Linked DNA regions of Homo sapiens. The protein of the gene in region 1 interacts with the protein of each later gene in a biochemical or structural test. Each region holds a gene or a part of one and is shown on either strand. Other genes may lie near its edges.

Region 1 (7,023 bases):
GGAGGCATGGGAGGATAAATGCAGGGATCAGGGCAAGTCCCCTCTTCCTGTGCATTTCGTCTCTGTGTCACTTGAGGCCAATCCCTAGCCCTCTCTGAGCCATGGGCTCCTCATCTGGAATACAGAAGGCTGTAGGGCATTCCCCATCTGCTCAGGGCCCTGTTTGTGGTGGAGAGGGCAGGGAGCCCCGTGTGCCCCCATGTGCCCAACCCTGCCTGGCATCCTCCCCAGGGCTGGCCGTTCTGCGGAGCGCCGAGCCGCTGGCCCTGGGCCGCTGGCACCGTGTGTCTGCAGAGCGTCTCAACAAGGACGGCAGCCTGCGGGTGAATGGTGGACGCCCTGTGCTGCGCTCCTCGCCCGGCAAGAGCCAGGGCCTCAACCTGCACACCCTGCTCTACCTGGGGGGTGTGGAGCCTTCCGTGCCACTGTCCCCGGCCACCAACATGAGCGCTCACTTCCGCGGCTGTGTGGGCGAGGTAAGAGCAGCCTCCTCGGGACAAGCGGGAGGGGAGGGGTGCCAAGCCTTGTGTCCCCCTCGGCTCTCCAAGCACCTTGGCATTGGGCCCCTCCACCTGCAGCCACCCACGGGCCCTGGGCCAGGACACTGTACCTCTGAGCCTCAGTTTCCTCCTCTGTAAAATGGGCATGATCACACCTACTTTGAAAGGTTGGGCAGAGGATTGTCTGCACTGACGGATGAATGTTTCTAGCACACAGTAGGCACTCAACTCCTGCGCCTCCCTCCCCACACCGAGAATCCATGCTACCACTCAGGGCCCAATGTGGGCTCCCAGCTCCCCTCTGCTGCATTCTTCTCCCTGCTGGTACACCTGGGTCTCTGCCTCCCAGGCCCCTTTAGTCCCTCGGTGTCCCTGTCCCCACAGGTGTCAGTGAATGGCAAACGGCTGGACCTCACCTACAGTTTCCTAGGCAGCCAGGGCATCGGGCAATGCTATGATAGCTCCCCATGTGAGCGCCAGCCTTGCCAACATGGTGCCACGTGCATGCCCGCTGGCGAGTATGAGTTCCAGTGCCTGTGTCGAGATGGATTCAAAGGTGGGAAAGCCTGCCCAGGGCACCGGAGGGGAGGGGCACAGGTGGTCAGCGACACCTCCAGCCCATGCCCACCCACCCACTCGCCTCTGCCCTGGCCCACAGGAGACCTGTGTGAGCACGAGGAGAACCCCTGCCAGCTCCGTGAACCCTGTCTGCATGGGGGCACCTGCCAGGGCACCCGCTGCCTCTGCCTCCCTGGCTTCTCTGGCCCACGCTGCCAACAAGGTACCCAGGCCTGGCTTCTCTCCACTTCATCTCTGTCTTGGGGCCCCGGAGCTCGACATAGTACCCACGGGTGTCTATGCCCACCAACTGGACCCTGCCCTTCTCCATAGGCTCTGGACATGGCATAGCAGAGTCCGACTGGCATCTTGAAGGCAGCGGGGGCAATGGTGAGTACTTGCCATGGCCTCCTCCCCAGCTTCAGCTCAGCTCACTCTTCCAGTTACCCCACACCCTCAATTCTGGCCTGCAAGCAAAACAGCTTTATATGAGGAGCTTGCTGGGCAGAGAGACAGAATGAAGACCACAGCCATGTGGAGCTAGGGCCTGCCCCACACTTACTGGCTGGGTGACCTTGGGCAGGCCTTTGAAACCACTCTGACCTCAGTTTCCTCCTCTGTATTCATGTATTCAGTCAACAAACTATTGTTGCCCATCCTTGCCCTGAGAGCAGTAAATATAAGATGCATAAAGCAAGACCCTCATTCCCAAGAATTCCACCGTCTACTGAAAAGCTAAGGAAACAGTGAAGAGTGAATGCTGATTGAATGTTTACGGACACTGTGCTAACCCCTTTACAGACACATCTCTTCTTATGTATCACTAATATAATAGGCGAGGCAGTGGTATAGTGGGTAAGAGTATAGACTTGGAGCCAGCCTGCTTGGGTTCAAATCCTAGCTCTCCCACTTACTAGCTGTGGAACTTTGGGTGAGTCGCTTAACCTCTCTGTGCCTCATATAAAATGGAGATGAGTAACATCTTTCCCTAAAGATTTGGATAAAATTTTATGTGAGAGTAAAATTACTTAGTGCATTTTTTTTTAAGGTGGAGTCTTGCTCTTTCACCCAGGCTGGAGTGCAGTGGCACAATCTCGGCTCACTGCAACCCCCGCCTCCCAGACTCAAGCGATTCTGCTGCCTCAGCTTCCTGAGTAGCTGGGATTACAGGTGCCTGCCACCACACCCCGCTAATTTTTGTATTTTTTGTAGGGATGGGGTTTCACCATGTTGGCCAGGCCTGTCTCTAACTCCTGACCTCAGGTGATCCGCCCCCCTTGGCTTCCTAAAGTGCTGGATTACAGGCGTAAGCCACCGTCCTAAAGTGCTGGATTACAGGCATAAGCCACCGCGCCCGGCCACTTAGTGCATTTTAAATGCCTAGAACAATGTGTGGTACAGAGTCAGTACAGAATGTTAGCTGTTGTTAATATTATGTTCAGCTGGCCGGGCACACTGGCTCACGCCTGTAATCCCAGCACTTTAGGAAGCTGAAGCGGGCAGATCACCTGAGGTTGGGAATTTGAGACCAGCCTGACCAACATGGAGAAACCCCATCTCTACTAAAAATACAAAATTAGCTGGGCGTGGTGGCACATGCCTATAATCCCAGCTACTCCGGAGGCTGAGGCAGGAGAATCGCTTGAACCTGGGAGGTGGAGGTTGCCATGAGCCAAGATTGCATGCACCATTGCACTCCAGCCTGGGCAACAAGAGCGAAACTCCCTCTCAAAAAAAAATACTATATTCAGCTGGGTATGGTGACTCACGCCTATAATCCCAGCACTTTGGGAGGCTGTGGCGGGCAGATTGCTTGAGCCCAGGAGTTCCAGACCAGCCTGGGCAACAAGGCGAAATCCTGTCTCTACAAAAAAATACAAAAAGTAGCTGGGCATGGTGGTGCTCATCTATGGTCCCAGCTACTCAGGAGACAGGCAGGAGGATTGCTTGAGCCCAGGAGTTCAAGATCAACCTGGGCAACACAGGGAGACCTCATCTCTACAAGAAATTTAAGAATTAGCTGGGTGTGGTGGCACATGGCTATGGTCCCAGCTGAGGCAGAAGGATCACTTGAGCCCAGGAGGTCGAGGCTGTAGTGAGCTACAATTGTGTCACTGCACTCTAGCCTGGGCAACAGACTGAGACCCTGTCTCAAAAAAATAAAAAATAAGGCTGGGTGCGGTGGCTCACACCTGTCATCCCAGCACTTTGGGAGGACAAGGTGGGTGGATCACCTGAGATCAGTTCGAGACCAGCCTGGCCAACATGGCGAAACCCCATCTCTACTAAAAATACAAAAATTAGCCAGGTGTGGTGGTGCACACCTGTAGTCCCAGCTACTCGGGAGGCCAAGGCAGGAGAATTGCTTGAACCTGGGAGGTGGGGGTTGTAGTGAACCAAGATTGTGCCACTGCACTCCAGCCTGGGCCACGGAGCGAGACTCCATCTCAAAAATAAATAAATAAAATAAAAATTATCTATATATAATATTCATTCATAGGGTTGTTGTAAGGATTGAGTTAAATGCAGTGGTGTCTGTAGCTGGATGGGACGCTCCCCGCACAGCCACATCATAGGTGTTAGGTAAATGTCAGCCGTTCTCCTCATCATTTGGTGGAGGGTAGCAGAGGGTCCCCTACTCTTGTCCCCTGCCAGAGCTACTGTGGCCAGTGCCGGCCTGTGGGATGGGTCATGAGCAGATAGGGCTGGGGGGGTGTGGAGCCACACACAGTATGGACATCCTGGGCCAGTCACTCGCCCAAGCCTGCCTGCTCTTCTGTAAGATGGAGAGAACACCAAGGCTCTGAACCATTTATTGCCACAGTCCAAGGTGACCAACGGTCCCAGTAGCTCCGGACTGAGGGGTTTCTTGGGATGTGGGACTTTCAGGGCTAAAGCCAGACAGAATTTGGCAAGTAGAATGGCGGGTCACCCGACACGGATCCTGTTGACTACACAAAATAAAATAAAATAAAATACATTGATTTAAGGAAAGCAATTATGCTGAAGTAAAGTAATCAAAACATGTTTTAAGTTTCCTGACTTGCTATATATGTGCTTCTTTATTAACACATCAAATAACAAGATCTGGTGATCTCAGTAGCTACCACAATTTCAAAGCAGCAATATGTGTAAATGATATTTTGAAATATTTGCAGCTACTGTCATGTGATAAGCAAATACTAGTAACAAAGTTGCAGGTCCTACCACTGCTACTTTGGTTTCTTGCCTACATCTCATTGAAAGAACTGCTCAATTTCAGTGAGAAGTGAGTGAAATTGAGGTGTAATGCTTTCCCATCCAAGGTCATAGGCTCCCTGAATTCTGTTGGCAGCCCCCGTGGGTCCCCAGGGACTGCAGGCTCGGAGCCCCCTAGTCCTGCATGTTGGCGTGGAGGTGGGGGTCAGGGGAACTGACGGGGGATTTTGATGCCTGATGCAGCAGGTATGGCACCACCCTCCTCTCTCCCACAGATGCCCCTGGGCAGTACGGAGCCTATTTCCACGATGATGGCTTCCTCGCCTTCCCTGGCCATGTCTTCTCCAGGAGGTGAGACTGGCATTGGAAGGGCCCATGGGCCTAATGGGGAGGATGGGAATCTGGGACTTCTGTCCCCTCACCCGCTCTTCCTCCGCAGCCTGCCCGAGGTGCCCGAGACCATCGAGCTGGAGGTTCGGACCAGCACAGCCAGTGGCCTCCTGCTCTGGCAGGGTGTGGTGAGTGTGGGTATCCGGCTGGGCTCTTGGGGCTCCTGGGGCAGGAAGCTGGCTTCCTGGTGGCCGGAGTGGTGGGGGGAGGGGAAAGCAGAGCCCCCTGGCCTCGGCAGCCTCTGCTCTCCAGGCTGGGGACCCCAGAGACCCTGTGCTTCCCTGGCAGGAGGTGGGAGAGGCCGGCCAAGGCAAGGACTTCATCAGCCTCGGGCTTCAAGACGGGCACCTTGTCTTCAGGTAGGTCCTGGCACCTGGCCCTTCCTCTCCCTTCCCTGGTCCCAGCACCCCACCCCCCGGTCCTGCCCCAGCTCATACTTCTTGGGCCTGGATGACTGCAGGTACCAGCTGGGTAGTGGGGAGGCCCGCCTGGTCTCTGAGGACCCCATCAATGACGGCGAGTGGCACCGGGTGACAGCACTGCGGTAAGGGACCCTGCCGGGCACTCGGGATGGGGCCCAGCGTTCTGGAGTGGGGCAGGACGCCCCCTACCATGGGCAGAGAGGCAGGTATTGAGCTCTGTGGAGACAGAACTTGAAGCCAGGGGAGGGGAGAACCCACCAGCCAGGGCTCGGGCTTCCATCTCGGACTGAACTCCGCTGGGGGCAGGCGAGTGCCCCAGGAGTGGGAGGAAACCTGGGTGCAGAAATGAGGAAGCTGTGTTTGTGGGGCCCGATCTCTCGTTCAGCGGGGGAAAGAAAGAGCTTGGGAAACAGGGACAGACTTCTGAGTCTGGAGTCTCGATATCAGAGGGAGGGGACTCTGTCGTGGGGCCGGGGAGGACCAGGAAGTTTGTGGAAAGGGGCCTGACCCAGTTCCACTGCAGGGAGGGCCGCAGAGGTTCCATCCAAGTCGACGGTGAGGAGCTGGTCAGCGGCCGGTCCCCAGGTCCCAACGTGGCAGTCAACGCCAAGGGCAGCGTCTACATCGGTAAGTCTGGGGCTCCTTCTCAGGGCAGGGGCAGGAACGGCACTCCCTTAGGGCTAGAGCTCGCCCAGCCTTCCTCGCCTCCTGGGCTGCTGGAGCCCACAGGCCCTGTCCTCTCACCTCCCGGCAGGCGGAGCCCCTGACGTGGCCACGCTGACCGGGGGCAGATTCTCCTCAGGCATCACAGGCTGTGTCAAGAACCTGGTGCTGCACTCGGCCCGACCCGGCGCCCCGCCCCCACAGCCCCTGGACCTGCAGCACCGCGCCCAGGCCGGGGCCAACACACGCCCCTGCCCCTCGTAGGCACCTGCCTGCCCCACACGGACTCCCGGGCCACGCCCCAGCCCGACAATGTCGAGTATATTATTATTAATATTATTATGAATTTTTGTAAGAAACCGAGGCGATGCCACGCTTTGCTGCTACCGCCCTGGGCTGGACTGGAGGTGGGCATGCCACCCTCACACACACAGCTGGGCAAAGCCACAAGGCTGGCCAGCAAGGCAGGTTGGATGGGAGTGGGCACCTCAGAAAGTCACCAGGACTTGGGGTCAGGAACAGTGGCTGGGTGGGCCCAGAACTGCCCCCACTGTCCCCCTACCCACCGATGGAGCCCCCAGATAGAGCTGGGTGGCCTGTTTCTGCAGCCCTTGGGCAGTTCTCACTCCTAGGAGAGCCAACCTCGGCTTGTGGGCTGGTGCCCCACAGCTACCTGAGACGGGCATCGCAGGAGTCTCTGCCACCCACTCAGGATTGGGAATTGTCTTTAGTGCCGGCTGTGGAGCAAAAGGCAGCTCACCCCTGGGCAGGCGGTCCCCATCCCCACCAGCTCGTTTTTCAGCACCCCCACCCACCTCCACCCAGCCCCTGGCACCTCCTCTGGCAGACTCCCCCTCCTACCACGTCCTCCTGGCCTGCATTCCCACCCCCTCCTGCCAGCACACAGCCTGGGGTCCCTCCCTCAGGGGCTGTAAGGGAAGGCCCACCCCAACTCTTACCAGGAGCTGCTACAGGCAGAGCCCAGCACTGATAGGGCCCCGCCCACCGGGCCCCGCCCACCCCAGGCCACATCCCCACCCATCTGGAAGTGAAGGCCCAGGGACTCCTCCAACAGACAACGGACGGACGGATGCCGCTGGTGCTCAGGAAGAGCTAGTGCCTTAGGTGGGGGAAGGCAGGACTCACGACTGAGAGAGAGAGGAGGGGGATATGACCACCCTGCCCCATCTGCAGGAGCCTGAAGATCCAGCTCAAGTGCCATCCTGCCAGTGGCCCCCAGACTGTGGGGTTGGGACGCCTGGCCTCTGTGTCCTAGAAGGGACCCTCCTGTG
Region 2 (7,023 bases), on another chromosome or scaffold:
TGCACAAACACACACACACACATACACACACACCCTCATGTAGCACAGATATCTATCAGCAGAATAATCTGTGGATGCCTTTGGTTGTGTGAGGTGTCCCTTCCAGTCATTCACTTGTCTGGTTAGAGTTTAGGAACCTGAAAAATGACCAACTTTTCTAGTAAATACTATTAACTCATTAATAAAACTAAATTTTCTTCTAGATTACAGATCTCCATTTATTGCTTCTGTTAGTGACCAACATGGAGTCGTGTACATTACTGAGAACAAAAACAAAACTGTGGTGATTCCATGTCTCGGGTCCATTTCAAATCTCAACGTGTCACTTTGTGCAGTAAGTTGCATCTCCTCCAATCGTCTCTTAAGTTTTTATAATTTTAAGCTAATATTAAGATGGGTAACCTGTTTATAATATTCACAATGAGTTTTAAGGATCCTTTAGGAAGGGTCAAATGCAATGAATAAAACTAATTAGTATTCTTAAAAATAAGATGAATTCTTCAGTGATCATTGTACATGGCTCTCATTTTTGGTACTGGATTAAATATTTGATATGTCTTTTTATTACCCAGAGATACCCAGAAAAGAGATTTGTTCCTGATGGTAACAGAATTTCCTGGGACAGCAAGAAGGGCTTTACTATTCCCAGCTACATGATCAGCTATGCTGGCATGGTCTTCTGTGAAGCAAAAATTAATGATGAAAGTTACCAGTCTATTATGTACATAGTTGTCGTTGTAGGTAAGAGGACATTTCCTTTCCATATCATTAATAACATATCCTTGTATTAAGATCTTGGAGATAACAACATAGAGTGAAGAAGGATATTGAAAAGTATAGGAACTCAGGATATGGTGTTGGGCAATTCATCTGCTCTTCTCTACCAAATAAACCCATGTGCAATTGAGGTTGTCTCTTTTCTTGCCAAGATTAAGGAAGAAAAAGAAAACTTTTTAAAAAAAGGATGAAAGCGAATGGTATTACTCGAGCACATTTTATGAAGAATTCAATGTTCAGAGCATTGCTTGCTATCAATTATTTCAATTATGACTATTTTATGGAAACTTCAGCAATTTGCTAAAGCTGGCCCTACTGGCCTAGGGCTACTGACCACTGAAAGTTTACTACTTTTCTGTCCACTGGGTTACAACATCTTTGAGATCTGTGAAGGTAGTGCTTTGTAAACCTCTGTTGGCCATTTTCCTGGGAGCTACCAAGTATTGGTGAGGCCTGCAGGGAAAAACAATGTGGCATGTTTTAAAGTTGCATTACTTTAAAAAATAAATCTGTGCAAAGTTATAGGCTTATTTGCTCTCTCATGTTCTGTTTTTTCAATTTACTTGCTCTAGGGTATAGGATTTATGATGTGGTTCTGAGTCCGTCTCATGGAATTGAACTATCTGTTGGAGAAAAGCTTGTCTTAAATTGTACAGCAAGAACTGAACTAAATGTGGGGATTGACTTCAACTGGGAATACCCTTCTTCGAAGGTAACGCTAATGATTCAAAGCCAGACCTCCAAATACTTAGATAATAAGCCCCAGTGAAGTTTGCTTGAGAGATAGGGGCCTCTTTGGCCAGATAAAATGTAAGAGCCTTAAACACACACACATACACACCCACTCACACACACATACACACACACACAATTTAAGGGAATTGCAGAACAGATAGCACCCACCAAAAGGTGAAATACCAGGAATTTTGTCCTATTCTGCAATAGCCAGGCTATGAATATTAGTTTTCTCTAGGTGATTACATCTTTCCACATTATGTCATTTCTCTGTTCTCCAAAGTTTTTGATCTACATTCCTTTTAAGGGAATTTCTCTTTAAGAGGTGGCATGAGATACACTGCTCCTTAAACAGTGGTCACATTTACTTGTGTTTCTGCAGTTTATATCCATCTCACTTTCACCACGTGAGGTTTTAAAAATCCTAATTCAGTTGGTTCCATTTATTTCTCCTGAAACAAAATATATTTGTTGTCTGCATGAGGTTAAAAGTTCTGGTGTCCCTGTTTTTAGCATTAAATAATGTTTACCAAAGCCCAGATTTAATTCTGTGTGTTACTAGAAGTTATTGGGTAATGTTATATGCTGTGCTTTGGAAGTTCAGTCAACTCTTTTTTTCAGCATCAGCATAAGAAACTTGTAAACCGAGACCTAAAAACCCAGTCTGGGAGTGAGATGAAGAAATTTTTGAGCACCTTAACTATAGATGGTGTAACCCGGAGTGACCAAGGATTGTACACCTGTGCAGCATCCAGTGGGCTGATGACCAAGAAGAACAGCACATTTGTCAGGGTCCATGGTAAGCTATGGTCTTGGAAATTATTCTGTGCCTTGACAAGTGAGATAATTTAAATAAATTTAGGTCACTTAGTGATTCCTATTTTGTTCATTCAGAAGATAGTTTCTAGTTTTTCTTGTTAGGGAGGCCACATGACCTAGAGGTCAAGAGCATAGCTTTGTAGTCAGGAACTTGGGTTCAAACCTCAACTTTAAAGATGAGATGTGCTGATATACAGTAAGAGTTCATTTAGTATTACTTATTATAGTTATTGCTGCTATTAGGATTGTTACTATGATAAATAGTATTAGCTAAGGTAGTTTTTAAATTTTCATTTTATTGCAAGGCTGAGAGGCCTACTTGAATAAGCATGAGCTTTGCAAACTGGGGAAACATTTAGCAATATACAGTTGACCTGTGAGCAACTCAGGGATTGGGGGAACTCAGGGGAGTTCCCCTAACTTTCCCTCCTCTGCAGTCAAAAATCCATGTATAGGCCGGGCGCGGTGGCTCACGCCTGTAATCCCAACACTTTGGGAGTCTGAGGTGGGTGGATCACCTGAGATCAGGAGTTCGAAACCAGCCTGGTCAACATGGTGGAACCCCATCTCTACTAAAAATCCAAAAAATTAGCCTGGTGTGGTGGTGGGAGCTTGTAATCCCAGCTACTCAGGAGGCTGAGGCAGGAGAATTGCTTGAACCCAGGAGGTGGAGGTTGCAGTGAGCCAAGATCGTGCCATTGTACCCCAGCCTGGGCAACAAGAGTGAAACTCCTTCTCAAAAAAAAAAAAAAAAAAAAAATCAAGGTATAACTTTTGACTTCCACAAAACATAACTAATGGCCTACTGTTGACTGGAAGCCCTACTGATAACATAAACAGTCAATTAACACATATTTTATATGTTATATGTATTATATACTGTATTCTTCCAATAAAGCTAGAGAAAAGAAAATGTTATTAAGAAAATTGTAAGGAAGAGAAAATATATTTACTATTCATTAAGTGTAAGTGGATCATCATAAAGGTCTTCATCCTTGTCTTCACGTTGAGTAGGCTGAGGAAAAGGGGGAAGAGGAGGGGGTGGTTTTGCTGTCTCAGGGGTGGCAGAGGTGGAAGAAAATCTGCTTATAAGTGGACTCATGTAGTTCAAGTTTGTGTTATTTAAGGGTCAACTGTAATTGAACTGGAATTAAATTGAACTGGCCTTGAGAAAATCACCTTAATTTTTTGTTTATTCTCTTTCATTTACATAAATGTCTGAGTTTACATGGTAATTTGTGTGGCATCCTACTTATAAGCCTTGGAAAGGATTTTGGAGTTTATATTATGAGAATGCATCAATACAGTGAAATTTTAAAAATACCTTAGATAATGCTATTTATTAGAGTTGTAATCATAAAAGTGGCAACAACTATAACAAGTATGATTTAGTGAGCACTTACTTTATTAGCTCATCTCATCTTTGAAGCTGAGATTGGAACTCAAGTTCCTGACTACAAAGCTATGCTCTTGACCTCTAGGTCACGTGGCATCCCTAGCAAGAACTTGAAAATTTCTTCTGAATGAACAAAATAGAAATCACTAAGTGTCCTAAATTTATTTAAATTATTTCACTTGCCAAGATGCACTTGTCAAAATACACAGAGAGAGATGTGCTCTGGCTTATGTTTTTATAGAATTACTTTTGTTTTCCAGAATACTTCAGGGAAATAGGGGCAGAAATAAGGAGGTCAGTTGGGAGGCTAATTGCAGTTATCCAAGTGAGAGTTGAGGGGTGGCTTAGACAAGGGTAGTTGAGGTGGAGGTAGTGAGAGGTGATCTGCTTCTGGATATATTTTGAAGGTAGAGTCAACAGGGTCCGCTGATCAATTCATTGGTTGTGGAGTATAAGAGAAAAAGAGTGGAAGATGACTCGAGCGTTAGCATGAGCAACTGAGTAAATGATGGTGTTATTTACTGAGATGGCAAAGATCGAGAAGGCAGTGAGATTTAGGGAAACAGTGTTAGATATGTTTATCTGGAGATGCCTGTTAAACATCCAAGTGGAGATATTTAACATATCAACCCGGAACCCAGAGGAGTCAGGGCAGAAGATAACACATTTAGGAGGTACGTGAATGATACTTTAAACCTGAGGCTAGAGGAAGGTGTAAATAAAGAGGAGGTCTGAGGACTGAGTCCTGGGGCCTCATGGTGGAAGAGGTGTGTGGAGGCTGTCATGGGAGCAGAGGAGAAGGAGCACCCAAGCATCCCTGGGGGACTTAGAGAAAGCTGCACAGAGGAGCAAGTGTTTGAGTTGAGACTTGAGCAATCACTAGGCTTGTGGGAGTGCACTAGCGGGGAGAGAAAAGCAAATGCAAACACAGGAGGTGTGGGAGAAACACGGGAGGTGTGGGAGAAGCTGAAAAGTGACCCACTGAAAGATAGTACAGGAAATCTTGGAACTGCAGCTACTCAGACCCTCAAGGTCTTTGACGTTTCACTTGAAATGAAAAACTAAATCAAATGACCATTTACAGTAAGTTGACCTTTTTTTTTTTTTATTTTCTTCCAGAAAAACCTTTTGTTGCTTTTGGAAGTGGCATGGAATCTCTGGTGGAAGCCACGGTGGGGGAGCGTGTCAGAATCCCTGCGAAGTACCTTGGTTACCCACCCCCAGAAATAAAATGGTAACTACTGGAAATAAATGCAAAGCATCATTTCGTGTGAGAGCAAATCCTTTGACTATACTAATTCCTGAGAATTTTTTTTCATAGGTATAAAAATGGAATACCCCTTGAGTCCAATCACACAATTAAAGCGGGGCATGTACTGACGATTATGGAAGTGAGTGAAAGAGACACAGGAAATTACACTGTCATCCTTACCAATCCCATTTCAAAGGAGAAGCAGAGCCATGTGGTCTCTCTGGTTGTGTATGGTGAGTCCATTCAATTTTCCTCTCTGCCCAAGATTTATTATGATACATTGTCTTCCAAATCAGCCAAACCACCGTTCCTCTGCCTCCTGCTGCTTCACTCATATCATGGCTGGGCCTGCGTACAAAAGTCATCTGGCGTGGTGAAGCTGAAGTGAAACGTAGGACCATGTGCTCTGGCCATGTTTGTTTAAGAGGCCGTGTAAATGAGCTTTGTGGTGGACAAATGCAAGATTAAAGTAGTGATACCCTCGATAGCTAAATGTTGTGAAATAAGAATGCCCACAGGGACAGTTGTCAAGCTAAGTTATACTACCATGTTCCCCTCTCATGGAATTGCCCACCTGGTACACAGATGTGTAAGACCCTTCTCCTTAGATTTTGTGCAAAGCTTCTAGTTTGATGTTGTAGTTGATGTATCAGAGATGTGCAGGCACGTTCCAACTCTGAAGGCTTTTGAAGTTGACACTGTTGGCTTGGTTGGGAGCTTTTCTTTTTTCCTTTTTGACAGGAGTTCAGGATCTGATTTTGAGTCTGTAAAGGAAAGATAGTAAGTTTTTGATGTAAAGATAATTTGAACTTTGTTTTCTGAAACTGAAAGGTACAAATAAGTGTTTGGAATGGAGTGGGGAGAAGGGTGCCATGGTCAAGTGAGTGTGAGAGGTGCTAAGGTGATGTGTAGATGTGTAACAGGTTTCTTTATTGCAGGACTTCGCAGAACCTTTTATATGCTAATGTATATTGGTATTCTCCAGGAGGAGAGACATAGAGTATTCAAGGTTTAACAAACCTATTTGACCAGAGCACCTTTTTTCCCCTGAGCAAATTCATTAATCTCTCACTCCAAACAGTTTGAGAAATGCTTCTCTGTTGTAATTCTTTGTTCCCCCTTCTGGTACGGCATATTAAAACTTCAGGATATTTTCCCATGACATTAAGGTGCTTCCCTACGTGTCCTGATACTCTTCTGTAGGCCGCTGAACTTGGCTTTATTATTTTTTTTCAGGGAATATTTTAAAGATAGGCTGGGTGCCGTGGTTTGCATCTGTAATCCCAGCACTTTGGGAGGCCGAGGCGGATGGATCACCTGAGGTCAGGAGTTCGAGACCAGCCTGGCCAACATGATGAAAACCCGTCTCTACTAAAAATATAAAAATTAGCCAGGCATGGTGGTGGGCACCTGTAATCCCAGCTACTTGGGAGGCTGAGGCAGGAGAATCACTTGAACCCAGGAGGTGGAGGTTGCAGATAGCCGAGATCGCACCATTGTACTCCAGCCTGGTGACAAGAGCAAAACTCCGTCTCAAAAAAAAAGTTAACAGGTTCCAAAAAGGTTGTTTAGAAGCAGCATAGGTGTAGGGGACTGGGGAGAGGAGAAACTGGAAAGTGTATAAGTAGGATGGGAGGAGGAAATGAACAGGAAATAAAAACAAAACACGGACAGCAAATAGCCCATTTCATCAGTTCATGAAGCCACTAAATATTTTATTCACTTTAGCAAATTCTCTGCTATATGAAATAAACATAAAAAAGAAGTCAAGTCTTCAAAGCATAATCTGAGGCTTTAGGTTGACAGTAATAAGGAAATAGTTTTGACTTTGGAGTCAAAAAAGAAAGAAAGGAAAAAGGGAGAGAAGAAAGAAGGAAGTGAGAGAAGGGAGAAGGAAGAAAGGGGAAGAGGGAAAGGGAGTGGAGAGGGAGGGAGGGAGGAAGAGGGAGAGAGAATGAAAAACTCAGATGATGGTGGCAGGAATGCATTCTCTAAAGATTTACACCTTCCTTTAACATGAGGTGGTTTACGTGTTTGGGTTCAG
Region 3 (6,933 bases), on another chromosome or scaffold:
TCAAATGGTATTTCTAGTTTTCTTAATGAAACATTCTGAAGCCAACTAGCAAATGGTAATGTCTGCAGGTGGATTTTAATTAGAAAAGTAAAAGAGAGATGGAATTTACAAATCTCTTCTACCCTAAACCTCCCCCACCCCAGAAAAGGACCAGACAAAAGTTTTAATTCCAAAAACCTTGCATTTAAAGAGTCCTTATGCAACATAGAGAGTAACAGGATGGTTACCAGAGGCTGGGAAGGGTAGTAGGGGTCAGGGGAAGGTGGACACAGTTAACGGGTACCAAAAAAAAAAAAATAGAAGGAATGAATAAGACCTACCATTTGATAGCACAACAGGGTGACTATAACCTGTGATAACAGGTTATTATAGTCAATAATAACTTAATTGTACATTTTTAAATAACTAAGAGTGTAATTAGATTGTGTGTAATACAAAGGATAAATGCTTGGGGGGATGGATACCCCATTCTCCAAGATGTGATTATTACGTATTGCATGCCTGTACCAAAACATCCCATGTACCCCATAAATATATACACCTACTATGTACCCTCAAAAATTAAAAAATAAAGAGTCCCCATACAAAAGATATAAGTCACAGCATCCTTACAAGATAGAGATCAGTGACATGGGCAAGCAACCTCACCTCTTACAGGGGGCATGTACCATCCTTCTATAGTGAAGAAGCATTTCCGTAAGTTAAAATTGAGATGAATCATATGGTTTCAGCCCCTAGAGTATGGTATTTTAGATTCAGGTCTAATTCCATAGAAGGAAGCCCTTACTTTCTTCAGGAATGAGGCAGTTTGCCATTTACCAAGCACGCTGGCCCCACTCATATCCATTTGGAGGACTTCAAATGTTGATGACAAGACTAAAGACCAGGAGCCTGGAATTTTTTACTTTCCGCAGGTAGAGACTGTAAAGCACATTGACGGCAGACTCCTATAAACTAAGAAACTTGTAAACTGGTACCTGGAAGGCAATTAGGCAGAAGTTATCAAGAACTTTATCAAAAGTGCATCCTCTCTGACCTACCAATTGCACTTCCTGGAATGTCAACTAAGAACATGTGCAAAGATTTAGCTTTTTAAAAAGTGATTCACGCTATTATTTATAATAATGAAAAACCAGAAAAAGCCTTAATGGCCCAACACTGGTTGAGCATACTGTGGTACACCCACTATTATACAGGATAATAGCAGGATACAGTAGTATGCATCATTATAAATGATGTAGAAATACATTTATTGACATTGAAACATATTTACAATACACTATTCTGTGAAAAAAGCAAGTTATAAAACAGTATGTGCAGTGTAAACTCATCATTGTTAATAGACAGCAATAAAGATATGCAGAAGAAAAAACTCTGAAAATGTACGCAGAAAAATGTTTATCAGTGGTGGGAAAATGAGTGGTTGTTTTCTTTTTTAAAATTATCTGTATTTTCTGATTTTTTCCCCTTCAATGAACATATAATTAGAAATACTTGTATACTTAGAGATGGTTCTAAAAATAAGCAACCAAACAGTAAATTGCCTTATGTTCAAAGGGGCTCCCACATCTGCACTCCCGCTCTCATATCCGCTAAGCATTTTTTTCCTCAAGGGAGTGACCACCTGCCAGGGCCTCAGAAGATGCCTAGAGACAACGTCTTTCCTCACTCCCAAGCCACTCCAGCCCTGCTGCCTCCAAGGTCAGGTTCAGCGCAAGAGTAGGCTCAGAAACAACTCCGAGCCAGTCCCTGGGTCGCTGCCCCAGAATTTAAGCCCATCCTTCAATTTCCTCAGCAGTCAAATATCCCTGGTCACTTACCTCTCCCGAGGGCAGCGCCCCGCGCTTGACCTCCTCGTAAGCGCCTACCTGCTCCCAGGTGGCCAGGAAGGCGTGGGTGGGGGTAAAGCGCGCAGAGCGCGGGAAGCCAGCGCGCACATAGCGGGCGGCCAGGCCCAGCACTGCGGGGGAGGTGTCCTCTCGGTACAGGACTCGGCCTCTGCCGTGGCTCGTGTCGATGTCCGCCAGAAAAGGGGCGATGGCCGGGAAGTCGGTGGGGAAATCATAGTCCACATACTGCGTTTCCCTGGGGAAGTCCTGAGTGGAGATGATGCCGTTGGTGCCCACCTGGGAGAGGAGAGGGACAAAAAGGTGACAGTCGCTCAAGCCCAAGGACGCTACCCTTTCGCGCAGGGAGGGAAGGGAACTGACTTAGGCAAAAAGCCTCTCTCTCCTTCCCCACTGGCCAGGGAGTCTGGATTCAGGGAAACAAGCGCAACTTTTGCGACTGTCCCAGCTCCGCGCTGCAGTAGGTCCAGGGGCCCTAAAACTCGTTCACCTATCTTCTCACTCCCCTCACAACCCCGGAGCCCCATGTCCTCGGAGAGGAAGCCTCCAGGTCTGAAGAGGGAACACCCCAGCTCCGCAGACGGGCACAGCCTTCTCGCGGTCCTAACTGCAAAGCCCGCTGGCCGCCCTAGCAACGCCACCTTTTCTGCCTGGGACGCGTACGTGGCTGCGAACAATTCTTGCTCTCCCCTCCAGGTCATTCTTGCTCCCCTACAGCAGCGGGGCAGGCAGCGGCATCGCTCTCTGGCCGGGTACCACCGCAAGGGTGCTGGGGGGCTCCAGGAGTGGGGTCTGTTTCCTCCCCTCTGGAGGCAGGGTTTCCGTGAGACCGACCCCAGGGAAGAAGCTGCGGGAAAAGTGCCAGGAGGGGGCTGAACTTACGTAGAGGTTGCTGAATCGGGCTTCGTAGAAGTGCAGGGGATTCGCCAGCTTCACCACGGCTGAGCTTTCGTCGTCGCCTTCCTGCAGGAGCTGGTCCCCCCACGACTCCCCGTGTGGGAAGAGCTCGTCTGGGTGCAGCGCCGCGGCCCGCAACATTAGCAACGGCAGCAGCAGTAGCACTGGTAACGACGACAGCACCGGCCGCCCGGCCACCCGGTCCCCCTCCATGCTCGCTCGGCCGTGCGCTTACCCGCTGCACAACGCGTCCCGCCCCGGCCTCCAGCCCACTCTCCGCGCCGCGCCAGCCTCGAACCTGGATCTCCGCGGGCGCCTGGGCGGGGCGGGACTCCAGGCCCACCCAGCAAGCTAATTGGCTGAGGCCCTCGGCTGGGGACCAATCACCGGCTCTGAGAAAGTTCGGCAGTGGCCACCACATCTGGTTCTCGTTAACTTTTCTAAGGCAGCGGCCGCTGGAGCAGCGGGGCTGGCGGGGTAAAAGCTCCTGGCCAGGGCTGCCTGGAGCTGCCCCTTCCACTCCGCCCCCAGGGAGCTCCCGGGTCATCCTCTCATCCGGGCTGCCCCGCGGCCCCCAAGGAGCCCCACCCCCGGGACCAAATGGCCCGCAAGGTTTGGGGCAGCGGCGTTGCAGGAGATGAGCTCAGCGCAAAGGGAACCCCGCAGCGGCGAGTGCGGCTGCTGGCCTGCGCGCTGTGGCCCCAACAGGCTGGCAGGGCGCGGGCGGGTGGCGGGGTTGCGGTATGAGCTTTGCTCCCTGCCCTGGGGTCCCGGGCGCTCCTGGCTCTGGAGGCCTGGCCATCGGTCCGAAAAGCAAAGGGACATTGTCGTGGTCCCCTCGGCCGCTTCGCTCCACCCAGAGACGCCCTGAGGAGAAGCGAGCCTTTGTACGAAGGCAGAGGGCTGACTCCTAAGTTCTGTCCCCCTCCCGAAGGCCGGCCGCTAGGGAAGACTTGGCCACCCTCTGGAAGTACCTTCCCCCGGGAAAACCGCAGCAGGAAAGACCATGAAATACTACTGTGTGTGATCCGCTCCGTTTGGGGAGTAGGATGAGGCATCCCGCTTGGTTACCAGGCAGAAAGGGGCGAGTCGCGGGGATGGGAAGACCCTGATCTCTTGCCCATTGCTGCGGCCGTCGGAGATGCCCTCCCCCGCGGCCACGGAGGCGGTAACCTGAGCTGCTCCGCAGGACTGGAAACCGCACAACCTCGAAACCAGCTGCGCAGGAGAAGGGGAACCCCATCCACCATAAACATCCCCTCTGCGAAGCCTCAGGAGCTGGAGGAGATTTTATTACCATTTTTATTATCAAGAGCTTAAAATTTCCCAGACAGTCTGTTTTCTCTCCCAGGCCCCCCATGAGGTCCTTAAAAGCAAAGATATTTAAAAAGAACGAAAGAAAGAAAAAAACCAAAAAGCAAATCCTTGGAAATGCCTTAAAGGACTCTCCAGAGACACACTGCTCTTTGTAGGTGTTTATTCCTATGGGCCCACTGGACCAAACGCTAAAAAACGTGAAGACATCAGACTGTGAGACTCATAGAGCAGACACAAAATGGAAAACTGGCCCAAAGCAGTTTGCTTCCTCAGAGTGGAGAGTTGTATATTTGATGTTCCAAAAATATATTTATGCTTGCACATATATTTTCTCATTCTTTCTGGGGTCAGGTATTTTTATTTTACTGAGGATGAAATGAAAGTTCAAAGACAGATGACTTGACTTGCCCAACATCATCTGAAGTTACTCCCTGATATAAAACTACTGGCCCTCTGTAGTTTTACTTTATCTCTCGATTCAGCATAATAATAATAACTAACATTTATTTAGTGGTACTAAGCTATGAGCTTTGGGGCAAGCAAACACTGAGATGGTCTCCAATGATCCCCATTTCCTGGTGTTCATTCCCCTGTATAATCTCTGCCCTGGGAGTGTGGACTGGCCTTGTGATTTCTAACAAACATAGTGTGGCAAGAGTGATGAGAAGAAGGCTAAATAAGATTGTGGCTTCTTCCTTGTTAGTTGACTTTCCCTCTCATTGATTTTGATGAAGCAAGCTGTTATGTCGGGGAGGCCCACATAGCAAGGAACTGAGGAGGGCAGCCTCTGGCCAACAGTCAGCAAGGAACTGAATTCTGCCAACAACCATGTCAGTGAGCTTGGAAACGGATCCTTCCCCAGTTGGGTCTTGAGATGGTATCTCAGCGCTGGCTGACATTTGATTGCAGCCTTGCAAGAGACCCTGAAGCAGAGGACCCAGCTAAGCCAGGTGCAGATTCCAGACCCACCAAAACTGAGAATTATAGTTTTGGTTAGATTATAATTATAGTTTTGGTGGGATTCCAGACCAACCAAAACTGAGAATTACAGCTTCAGCTTCAGAAGCTGAAGAAGCTGTGTGTTGCTTTAAGCTATTACATTTTGGGATAATTTGTTATGCAGCAATAGACAACTGATAACAGGTAGTCGTTGTGTTAAGGAAACTAAAGCTCAGATGGGATTTTAAAAAAATCAGTTATTATCACATGGCTGGTAAGTACCAAAGCTGAGATTTGAACCCAATTCTGTCTGATCTCTAAACCTCCACTCCTAACCACTAAATTATATTGCAGCAAGGCCCTTTGGAAAGTAGCTCTAGTTTATGTCTCTAACTTTATCTCCCGTCACAGCCACCCTGAAGTCTCACCTGAAGCTGAGACTTTAATTCTCCAATACAACATCCTCACAGGTAAGTCCTTTTACCTACAGTAAAAGGTCAATTTCTTGGTCAATTTCAAGCCAACACCTTCTCATCTTTAAGGCTTGAATCAAAACCCTCCTCCTTCAGGAATCTGGGAAGAGAAAAGAATTCCCCACATCTTTTGCAAAAATCTCATTAATAATCCACCCCATTTAGCTTATAATCAATAAATAACCATAAGTATAATCAGTCAAGCAGCCGACGCCACTGCTCTGCCTATTCTTTTGTTTCTTTACTTATCTAATAAAGTCACTTTCACTTTACTTTGTAGACTCACTCCAAATTCTTTCTTGCACCAGATCCAGGAGCCCTCTCTTAGGGTCTGGATCAGGAACTCTTTCCAGTAACACTACTGCCCCCTTTTGAGCTATGTATTCATCCTTGAAACTGCTTGCTATTGCCACAAGTAACTATACATTAACCTAATAATGTCACACTGGACACTATCACTCATAGCCTATAGCTTAACAGTGCATAGCCAATCAGTGAGCAATGTTGTTTCTGTAAACCAATGTGAATTCCTTACAAACAATTTCATATCGGCCTACTCCCTGTCCCCCTTTTCTGCCTGTAAAAAACCTGCTTGTAATAAAGGCGGCATGAAGCTCATATCCAGGGTTACTTGGGTCTAAGTCTTCCGGGCAACTGTCCTCACTTTGGCTCAAGTAAATGTTTTGTTATATTTTGTGCCTCTGTCTTTTCCTTTCAGGTGGACGAAGCTTTCCTGGAATCCACAGTCTGATTTAGAAGCCCTTTCTCCTTGCTTCCATGTGCCCTGTGCTTGCCGTGATCATACCTCCTATCACACATCTCTCCCATAATCCTGATCTCCACATGCTTCCCTTACCACCACCACCACCACCACCACCACCACACCTGGAGGGCAGGGATTTTGCCTTCTTCAGTGTCTGCCGCAATGCCTGCCTGGCTCACTTGAAGTGTAAGAAATGTTTGTTGAATGAGTGAAGACAAGCAAGCCAGCCTGGGACTAGGACCCATGTCTGCTGGCTCAGAATGCAACATTCTTTCCCCTACACCACCTTTCCTGCTAATCTGACCTGACTCTTGTAATCCTCTTTACCAGGCTGCCTAGCAACTCACCTACCACTGCTCTCCCATTTTTGTCATTCTTTCATTCATTCATCCATTCAACAACAATTTCCTGAAAGTACACCATGACAAACACAACTCTGCAAGAAATAAAGGAGTACAAAATGTGGCCCCTGACCTTAAAGAGCTCATGATCTGGTTGGGGAAACAGAGCATAAGAGGATGTCACTAGTTTTGAATCTGATGCAATCTGAGTACAAAAAAATAGTTCCAATAGAGAAGATGCTAAAACGAACAGTTTTGTTTTCCTGTCTGCATAAAGTGGCTGAATTCTCCCTGAAATAGGAGGCTTTGGACAGCTGTGCTTAAGAGAACATGCCTTTGAGCTTTTATTCTGATAT
Region 4 (7,505 bases), on another chromosome or scaffold:
ACGCCAGGAAGGAAATGGGGCCGCTACAGAGGTGGTGAGGTGCCAGGGCCCACGGAGGGCCCACCTGTTGCGCGGGGGCGAGCACCAGGCGCTGGGTGCACGGGGGCCCGTGCGTGCCTGTGTACGTGCGTGGGTGTGCGCGCACGTGTGCTCAGGCCGCGCGTGCAGGGGCCGTGCGTGCGTTTGTGTGCGGTGCGCGCGCGTGTGTCCCGCGTGTGCACGGGCGTGGCAGAGGCGGGCGCGCGACCTGGCCGCGGTAGTGCGTGCCCGTCGCTCTGCGCGCCCGCCCGCCGGAGCGCAGCATCGCCTCCGGCCAGGAGTGTGCATGCGTGGGGTGAGTGAGCGAGTCGGGGGCCCGGGCGGGGTGGGCTGCGGAGAGCAGCCACGGGGCGCCGCCGTTCCCAGGACGCCCTGGCACCGGGCCCAGCCCCCAGGTCCCACGGCGAGGCGAGGCGGCAGCTGGGGCCGGCCGGCCACCCCCTCCCCAACAGCTGGCCGCGGCCCGGGGGGCTGCGGGAGAGGCGGAGAGGGGGCGTCGGGAGGGGCCTGAAGGCGGCCCGGCCGAGCCCCGCGTCCTCCCTCCCGGGTGCGGGCCGCGGGGGGCGGCCGCGGAAGGGCGGGGCCCCCGGGCGGGCGGCCTGCGGCCCTCGAGGAGCCCCGAGAACAAAAGGAGACGGCGACGGCTCCTCCGTGGTCAAAACAACCTGCGCTGGCGGCAGCCCAAGGCCGGGCCGCGGCCTCCGAGCCCTCCGCCTTAACCCCTTCGCCGCCGCTGCCTCCTTCCTGCGCCTGGCTGGAGGCCGCAGGGGCCGACCCTCCCCGGGAGCCGGCGAGGTGCGGGCGAGGTGCGGACTCCCGGCCGCAGCCGGGCGGAGGTGGGACGGTACCCAGTCACGCCGCGCTCCCGGCTGCCCTCTCCTCCCCTCCACCGCGCGCGTCGTCCTGCCCCGCCCCCTTTCCCACCTGGATTCCGGGTAGACTTGCCAACTCACGGCTACGTGAGGCTGGGAGGGGTGGGGACGGCTCCGACCCCAGCGCTCCCTCAGATGTTTTTATACCCCATCTCCCGTGCAGCTAGGCTTTTGCAGGCGGCGCGCTCCGCACCCTGCATGCGGGGGAGAGAGGTGCTTCCTCCTGCAGGGCGCGGGCACAGGTACGGCAAGGCCTCAGGCACACAGCGCCCCGGGGGCTGGATTCCTTCAGAGCCCCTAGTCCTCCCCCTACCCGAGTGCCCGAAACCTACCTGCGTCTCTATCTTTCTCTCCCTCTCTCTCTCCGTCTCTCTCTCCGTCTCTCTCTCTCTCTCTCTCTTTCTCTCTCTCTCTCTCTCTCTCCCTGTTACTCCCACCCCAAACCCCGCGCCCGAGACACAAGCTGCTTCCAGACCGTGCTCTGGGGCCGGGCATGCCCTGCGCGTGCCGGAGGGCGTCCACCCGGACCCCGACCGGGAGCCAGGGTGGGACCCGAGCCCCGTCAAAGGTCGGCGTGGATGGCACCGGTGCGCAAGCTTGCACCTCCTGGGCAAGCCGATGGCAGGACAGAGCCTAAGCCGAGGCTGGCGCCGAAGTGGGCTCGGGAGGACGCGCTGCCTTCTGCACCCTGGGCACCACCCCACCCCCTCTCCCCCGGCCGGGAAGGGGCTTGTTCTCGGGTTCCCAAAGGGTGGGGGACAGGGCCACACACACCCTCCCCCGACACGGAACGGCTTAGGGAGCCAGATTCGCCCGCCGGTTGGAAAGAAAGCCACCGCTGTTGCCTTCCCTTAGAGCCTGTCACCCCCGGACCTCGCTCCCAGCCCGAAGAGGTCACCCAGCGCCCGGCGTCAGGCTCGCGGGCTGCAAGGGTCCAAAGTTCACTGCAGGGAGAGGAGGGGGCGGTCAGAAGGGGGGGGCGAAGGTAATGAATGAAGAACCAGCCCCAGCCGCCGTGGCAACTCACCTCGGCGCTGACCAGACGCAGGTAGCAGCAGAGAGACAGGAAGAGCGCCCAGCAGCGATTCATGCCGACTCCGGGCCCGGCCCCGCGGGGCCCCGGACGCGTAGATCGAGCGCGCCGCCCCCGCGGCCAGGGTGGGGGGCTGGGGAGGGGGGTGGGCTCGGCTCGGGTCCGCGGCGATCAGGCGCTCAGGCCTCTGCAGCCGCGGCTCACCCGCATGGCCCCCGGGCGCCGCCGCCCCCGGCCCCGGCTCCGTCGCTGGGGGGCAGGGGAGGACCTGGGCGCAGGACCTGGGTCCGAGGCCGCTACCTGGGCGGATCCCGAGCCCGAGTGAGCATCCACGGCCGGGGGGCTGCGTCGCGAACCAGCCGAGGCGTCTAGCCGTGTGGGGGCGCCCAGGGGACTCCAACCTCCAAGAGGAAAAGGAACACGGCAGTCGATGGTTCGTCTTCACTCGCCGGCTACAGGCGTTTTCCTCTGCCCGCCGGCTTAGCTTTTTTGCAACATTTTCTGGAAAGGCCCCCAAAATCGGAAAGCGCGGAGCTGGGCACCTCAAGGCCCAAGTCTCCCCCAAAAAACTTTTTCCAAAGTTGGCTTTGCAACGGCAGCTCGAGCACCCGGGCAGGGAGAGGTGCAAACTCCCGCCCGGGCCGGGTAGGGGGGCGGGAGCGTGTGCGCCCTGGCGCGGGGCCCGGGCGGCGGGCACGGCTGCTCCGCGCGCGCGGCGTGCCCGCTGCGCGCTCGGCTGGGCCCGGCCGACAGGTGGACGCGGCGCGAGTCCGTCGGTCCGTCTGCCCGCCCGCTCGCCGCTCTGGGCGTCCTCTGCGGGCTGCGGGCTGCGAGCTGCGAGCTGCGAGCTGCGGCTGCTCCGGTTTTCTCTTTGCAGCGAGGCTGGAGGGTGGGCTTTTTTTTTTTTTTTTCCTTTTTGCGCGCGTATGTATGTGTGTGCGCGCAAAGTATCTCTATCTAGGGAATGAAAAATGGGCGCTGGCGGCCGGAGGGGAGCCCTAGGGAGGCAGCGGGGGAGGCTGCGGGTGCGCAGGGAGGCAGGCAGGCCGCTCCCGGCTGCAGGAGGAGAAGTTGCCACCCTTTCAGCTGTTCCGGCCTTTATAAAGGAGAAGGGAGAGTGCGAGAGGTGGGTGGAGACAGCCTTTCCTCTTCTGGCCCGGAGTCAGCGCCAGGAGGGGGGGGACGCGGGAGCTGGGGGAGGGCTTGGGGCCAGGGCGGGGCGCTTAGGGGGTCTCTGAGAGCCGAGCAACCCTTCAGTCCATGAATCTGGCCCTGGGGAAAAAAGAACTAGGGGTGACCCACCGTCCCGCCCCTCAGCACAGTGACCATGGACAGGTTAGGAGCCCACGTGGTCTAGGGGGATGTCTCCAGAGCCAAGGCCAGGAGTCCACGCTCCCCTCCAGGACCAGACATTTCCACCCTGGCACAGGCATGGCAGGGAGGGACTCAGGCTCTGCAGTCTGAGAGCCTGAATTCAGATCCTGCCCTGGCACTCGGGAGCTTGGGTCACCTTGGGCAAGTCACTTCCCTCTGTCCCCTCCATCTAGCCTCAACCTGGAGATGGGGCTATTGTAAGGACTCAGTGTTAGCAAGGGAAGACACCGCAAGGTGAACCCACAGAACCCGGCAGCCAGCGCCCTTCAGCTGCAAGCTGGGTCCGAGTCTCCTCCTCCTAGCTGGTTGCCTGGCACAACAGGCCCTGCCAGCGTTGGCTGAATTTGAATTTGTTGAACTGCAAAGTCACACAAACCCCCACAGCCCTGCAGCATCTTCGCAGGGCTACCAACATGATCTTCCCGTCAGTCACCCTGCTGTTTACTATCTCCCTCAGCCCCCGGGTTCGAGGCCCAGAGCCCACCCACCCACAACCAGCCTTCACACAGTTAACGCCTTCTGCCCCCAGTCAGGGAGCTGCTGTGTCCCTGCCTTCAGCAGTCACACTGTCTCAGTCACAGTCACACGTACTCACACTGGGCCCAGCACCCCCCTCGGGACACGCAGGCTCCTGCATCACCCAGCCTCCCGGCTTTGAGGCACCCTCATCTCCTCCGCTTGCACTGTCTCTGTTATCCGCCCTTCCCTTTGGGATGTCAGCCTGCTTCTCACAGAGGAGCACACTGAGAGAGTCACACCTGCTCTCTCTTCATAGACTGTCTTCTTGGACCTGGACAGGGTGGAACAGAGGAGGAAGGACATCTCAGGTGGTCTTTACAGACCACTGCAGGCACCCACCCACTGCTGCCTACCACCCAGCAGCGTGGCACAGTGGCAGAGACACAGCCTGAAGACACATCACCTTGGTCCAAATCCTGGAGTGGCCACTTGCTGGACAAGTGTCTGCAGGAAGGTTTTTTAACCTCTCAGTACCTCGGTTTCCTCCTTTATAAACTGGAGATGAATTTATAAACTGGAGCTGGGTGTGGTAACAAGCTCCTGTAGTCCCAGCTACTCAGGAGACTGTGGATCGTTTTGAGCCCAGGAGTTTGAGGCTGCAGTGAGTTGTGACTGTGCCACTGCACTCCAGCCTGGGCAACAGAGCAAGACCCTATCTCTAAAGAAATAAAAATAAATCTATAATGGGAAGGAGTGAGAGAGAACAGAGAGGCATGGCAAAATTTTAGTGGTGATGGAAATGTTTGTCATTTTTGATTGTGGTGATGGGCTTATGGGTGTATACGTACATCACAACAAAATGTGTGCAGTTTGTTGTACCTCAGTGCAGTTGTAGAGAATTTTTACCCTGCTCCTGGAGTGGTCTGGAGGCTCCCATGAGGTCCTCCATGTGGAGGCGCTCAGCAAAACACCTTAGCAGGAAGCAAGCGCCTGGAACCTTCCATGCAGCCTTCAAGTTCACTGGTGGCCCCGCACTGCTCCAGGCACTGGGGAGACAGGTGTGAACCAGCCTAATGCAGGCCCCTGCCTTTGAAGAGCCCCATTGAGAAGGACAACCAGATGTATAAACAGATAAATTAGGAGACAGGGTGACAAGGGAGATGGGGCAGCGGGACGAGGAGATAACCCCCAAACACTAGATTTGAAGTCTAACGACTCAGAGATAAAAACCCTCTTCCACCGGACAGCTGGGTCATTTGACCTTGACCTTCTGTGTCTTCTATAAATAGAATGGTAACAACTACCATGATTAGTGAGCTGACTATGTGGTAGCTAGTGTTTTTCTTACTCTACCTGTAGCCTCTCCATGCTCCTGTGAGATGTGTTATTCCTATCTTACAGATGGGGAAATGGAAGCACAGAGAGGCCAATACACTTGTTCAAGGTCACACAGCCCGTAAGTGGTAAGGCCAGGACTTGAATCTGAGCAGTCCAGCTACAGAGCCCACATGCTGAGACCACCGTGCTGTGCAATTTTCTGGCAGGTGATGCTGATGACAATGATGACACTTTTGACACAGCGCTTTGGTGAGCGCCACATGCATTAATATGTGGGAACCTGCTCTGCCAGCTAAAAAGTGATGGACCCATATGAACTCTGACTTAGGTACAAGTTGAGGGAGAGGGAAGGCTACTCAGAGCAGCATCGTAGAACGCCTACTGTTTGCAGACCCTGTGTGAAGCGCTGAGAAATGGAATGAGGAAGGAGTCCCAGCCTCGGCACTCAGGGACTTCCCATGCTCTCAGTGAGATAGACCCAAATCATTGCAGTGCAGGTGCCAGTACATGGGTTAGAAGTGGCAGAAGAGGGCCCAGCAGACACCTGGGCCTGAATGCTACGTGACACCTGCGTGACACCTGGGCCTGAATGTTGTGCTAAGGGCTCCTTTCTTGTACCTTCTCTGTGCAGAGGAACAGTCTGTAAAGAACACCTCCCCAGGCACGGTGGCTCACCCCTGTATTCCCAGCAATTTGGGAGGCTGAGGCCAGAGGATCATGTGCAGCCAGGAGTTCGAGACCAGCCTCAGCAACATAGCGAGATCCCATCTCTTAAAAAAAATTACCAAAAAAAAAAAAAAAAAAAAAAAAAAATATATATATATATATATATATATATATATATATATATATATATATATATCTGAGTGTGGCCCCAGCTACTCAGGAGGCTGAGTCAGGAGGGAGAATCCCCTGAGCCCAGGAGTTCAAGACTGCAGTGAGCCATCTCAGAGACGGGGTCTCGGTCTGTCGCCGAGGCTGGAGTGCCGTGGTGCGATCTCTTCTCACTGCAACCTCTGCCTCCCAGGTTCAAGCGATTCTCCTGCCTCAGCCTCCCGAGTAGCTGAGACCACAGGCGCCTGCCACCATGCCCAGCTAATTTTTGTATTTTTAGTAGAGACGGTTTCACCATGTTGACCAGGGTGCTCTCGATCTCCTGACCTCAAGTGATCTGCCCCACTCAGCCTCCCGAAGTGCTGGGATTACAGGCATGAACCACCACACCCAGCCTAAAAATTTTTTTTTAATAACACCTGATCGTCTGCCTCCTGCCAGGCTGGGTGTAGCAGGCACCTCCTCCAGAAGGCCCACCAGGCTTGGCACTTGTTCCAGGCTCCACAGCATGCACACCTGGCATCGTCATGGCCTGATCATCAATCTAGCACTAGACTGAGTCCAGAGTGTTCAAGGGCCTCCTGCCAGCTCCTAGCATACAGTGGCTGCTCAGGAAGTGCCGCTCGCTGAAGGAATGAATAAATGATTAAAATCCTGCCAATTTCTCTTTCTGAGTCCTGACCAGTTATTGCAGAGATGCCAGGCCCTTCCTAAAGGGTGGAAAGAGTTGGGGAGGGGCTTGTAGCATGAGCCTCTAAGCTTGGAAGCACAGGGCCCCTGAAGGGCACCCCTTCTGGAGGTATCAGAACTGGGAAGGGTCTGAAGCCACACCACCCTGAATGCACGTGGTCTCATCTGACCTCGGAACTTCATCAGGGCTGGGTCTGAGGAGCACTTGAATGAGAGAACTGGGAAGGCCCCCGCCCATCTTCGCGTTCAGGCCACTGGGAAATAAGGTTCTCCAGCAGAGCTAGGGATGGGGGCGCCCACACCCCCGTAACTCTCCACCCTCCACTCCAGGACAGATCTGAGCCAAAGGGAAAAAGAGTGGCCACAGCCGTGGGGGATGGGGGTGCTGCCCAAGGTTGGGGGCTTTTTAGACTGTGTGCTCAGAGCTATCCAAGCCCTCATCCATGAAGAGCATCTTACACCCTGGGCGTGGGGGTCCAGGACACTGGCTGGGGTGAAGAAATACCAAGGAAGGAGTTGGGTTCCATCCCGGGGGCAAACTCACGCCCTCAAGTCCAGAAAGGTGAGAGCGATGATCACTGGGAGCCTCCCCGCCACTGAGAGGGGCCAGCAACACCTGGGCCAGGCAGCTCTGCTTCTCCATACTTGATGGAGAGGAAGTGAGGCTCTAAGCTGGAGACCGTCCAAGACCATGCCACAAATGGTCTGAAACTCCAAGCCCTACCCCACTCCGCGTGGCCCTCATCAGCTCCCCCATGCCCCTTGCTGCCCCATCCCCTGCCTCCCTGTCTACAGGGCCTTTGGCTGTCCACAAAGCACTTCCTTCCCCTCTGCCTGCCTCACCCTCACAGTCGCCCAGGGAGAAG

The links.
Region 2: the proteins of HSPG2 (region 1) and KDR form a complex in vitro, tested with the Homo sapiens proteins (2 studies listed by IntAct).
Region 3: the proteins of HSPG2 (region 1) and NID2 form a complex in vitro, tested with the Homo sapiens proteins (one study listed by BioGRID).
Region 4: the proteins of HSPG2 (region 1) and PDGFB form a complex in vitro, tested with the Homo sapiens proteins (one study listed by BioGRID).

What each region holds. Positions count from the first base shown.
Region 1 is NC_000001.11:21,822,288-21,829,310, reverse strand, and holds part of HSPG2 (basement membrane-specific heparan sulfate proteoglycan core protein isoform b precursor), read left to right. Parts: intron 1-231; coding exon 232-476; intron 477-884; coding exon 885-1,056; intron 1,057-1,158; coding exon 1,159-1,281; intron 1,282-1,391; coding exon 1,392-1,448; intron 1,449-4,085; exon of another isoform or gene 4,086-4,531; coding exon 4,532-4,607; exon of another isoform or gene 4,608-4,695; coding exon 4,696-4,774; exon of another isoform or gene 4,775-4,934; coding exon 4,935-5,005; exon of another isoform or gene 5,006-5,106; coding exon 5,107-5,190; exon of another isoform or gene 5,191-5,591; coding exon 5,592-5,695; exon of another isoform or gene 5,696-5,822; coding exon 5,823-5,995; 3' UTR 5,996-7,023. UniProt on the Homo sapiens protein: Integral component of basement membranes. Component of the glomerular basement membrane (GBM), responsible for the fixed negative electrostatic membrane charge, and which provides a barrier which is both size- and charge-selective.
Region 2 is NC_000004.12:55,108,592-55,115,614, reverse strand, and holds part of KDR (vascular endothelial growth factor receptor 2 precursor), read left to right. Parts: intron 1-203; coding exon 204-334; intron 335-572; coding exon 573-741; intron 742-1,349; coding exon 1,350-1,489; intron 1,490-2,133; coding exon 2,134-2,311; intron 2,312-4,846; coding exon 4,847-4,961; intron 4,962-5,048; coding exon 5,049-5,212; intron 5,213-7,023. UniProt on the Homo sapiens protein: Tyrosine-protein kinase that acts as a cell-surface receptor for VEGFA, VEGFC and VEGFD. Plays an essential role in the regulation of angiogenesis, vascular development, vascular permeability, and embryonic hematopoiesis.
Region 3 is NC_000014.9:52,066,038-52,072,970, forward strand, and holds the start of NID2 (nidogen-2 precursor), read right to left. Parts: upstream 3,023-6,933; 5' UTR 2,958-3,022; coding exon 2,730-2,957; intron 2,127-2,729; coding exon 1,821-2,126; intron 1-1,820.
Region 4 is NC_000022.11:39,241,963-39,249,467, forward strand, and holds the start of PDGFB (platelet-derived growth factor subunit B isoform 1 preproprotein), read right to left. Parts: upstream 3,021-7,505; 5' UTR 2,002-3,020; coding exon 1,939-2,001; exon of another isoform or gene 964-1,938; intron 1-963. UniProt on the Homo sapiens protein: Growth factor that plays an essential role in the regulation of embryonic development, cell proliferation, cell migration, survival and chemotaxis. Potent mitogen for cells of mesenchymal origin.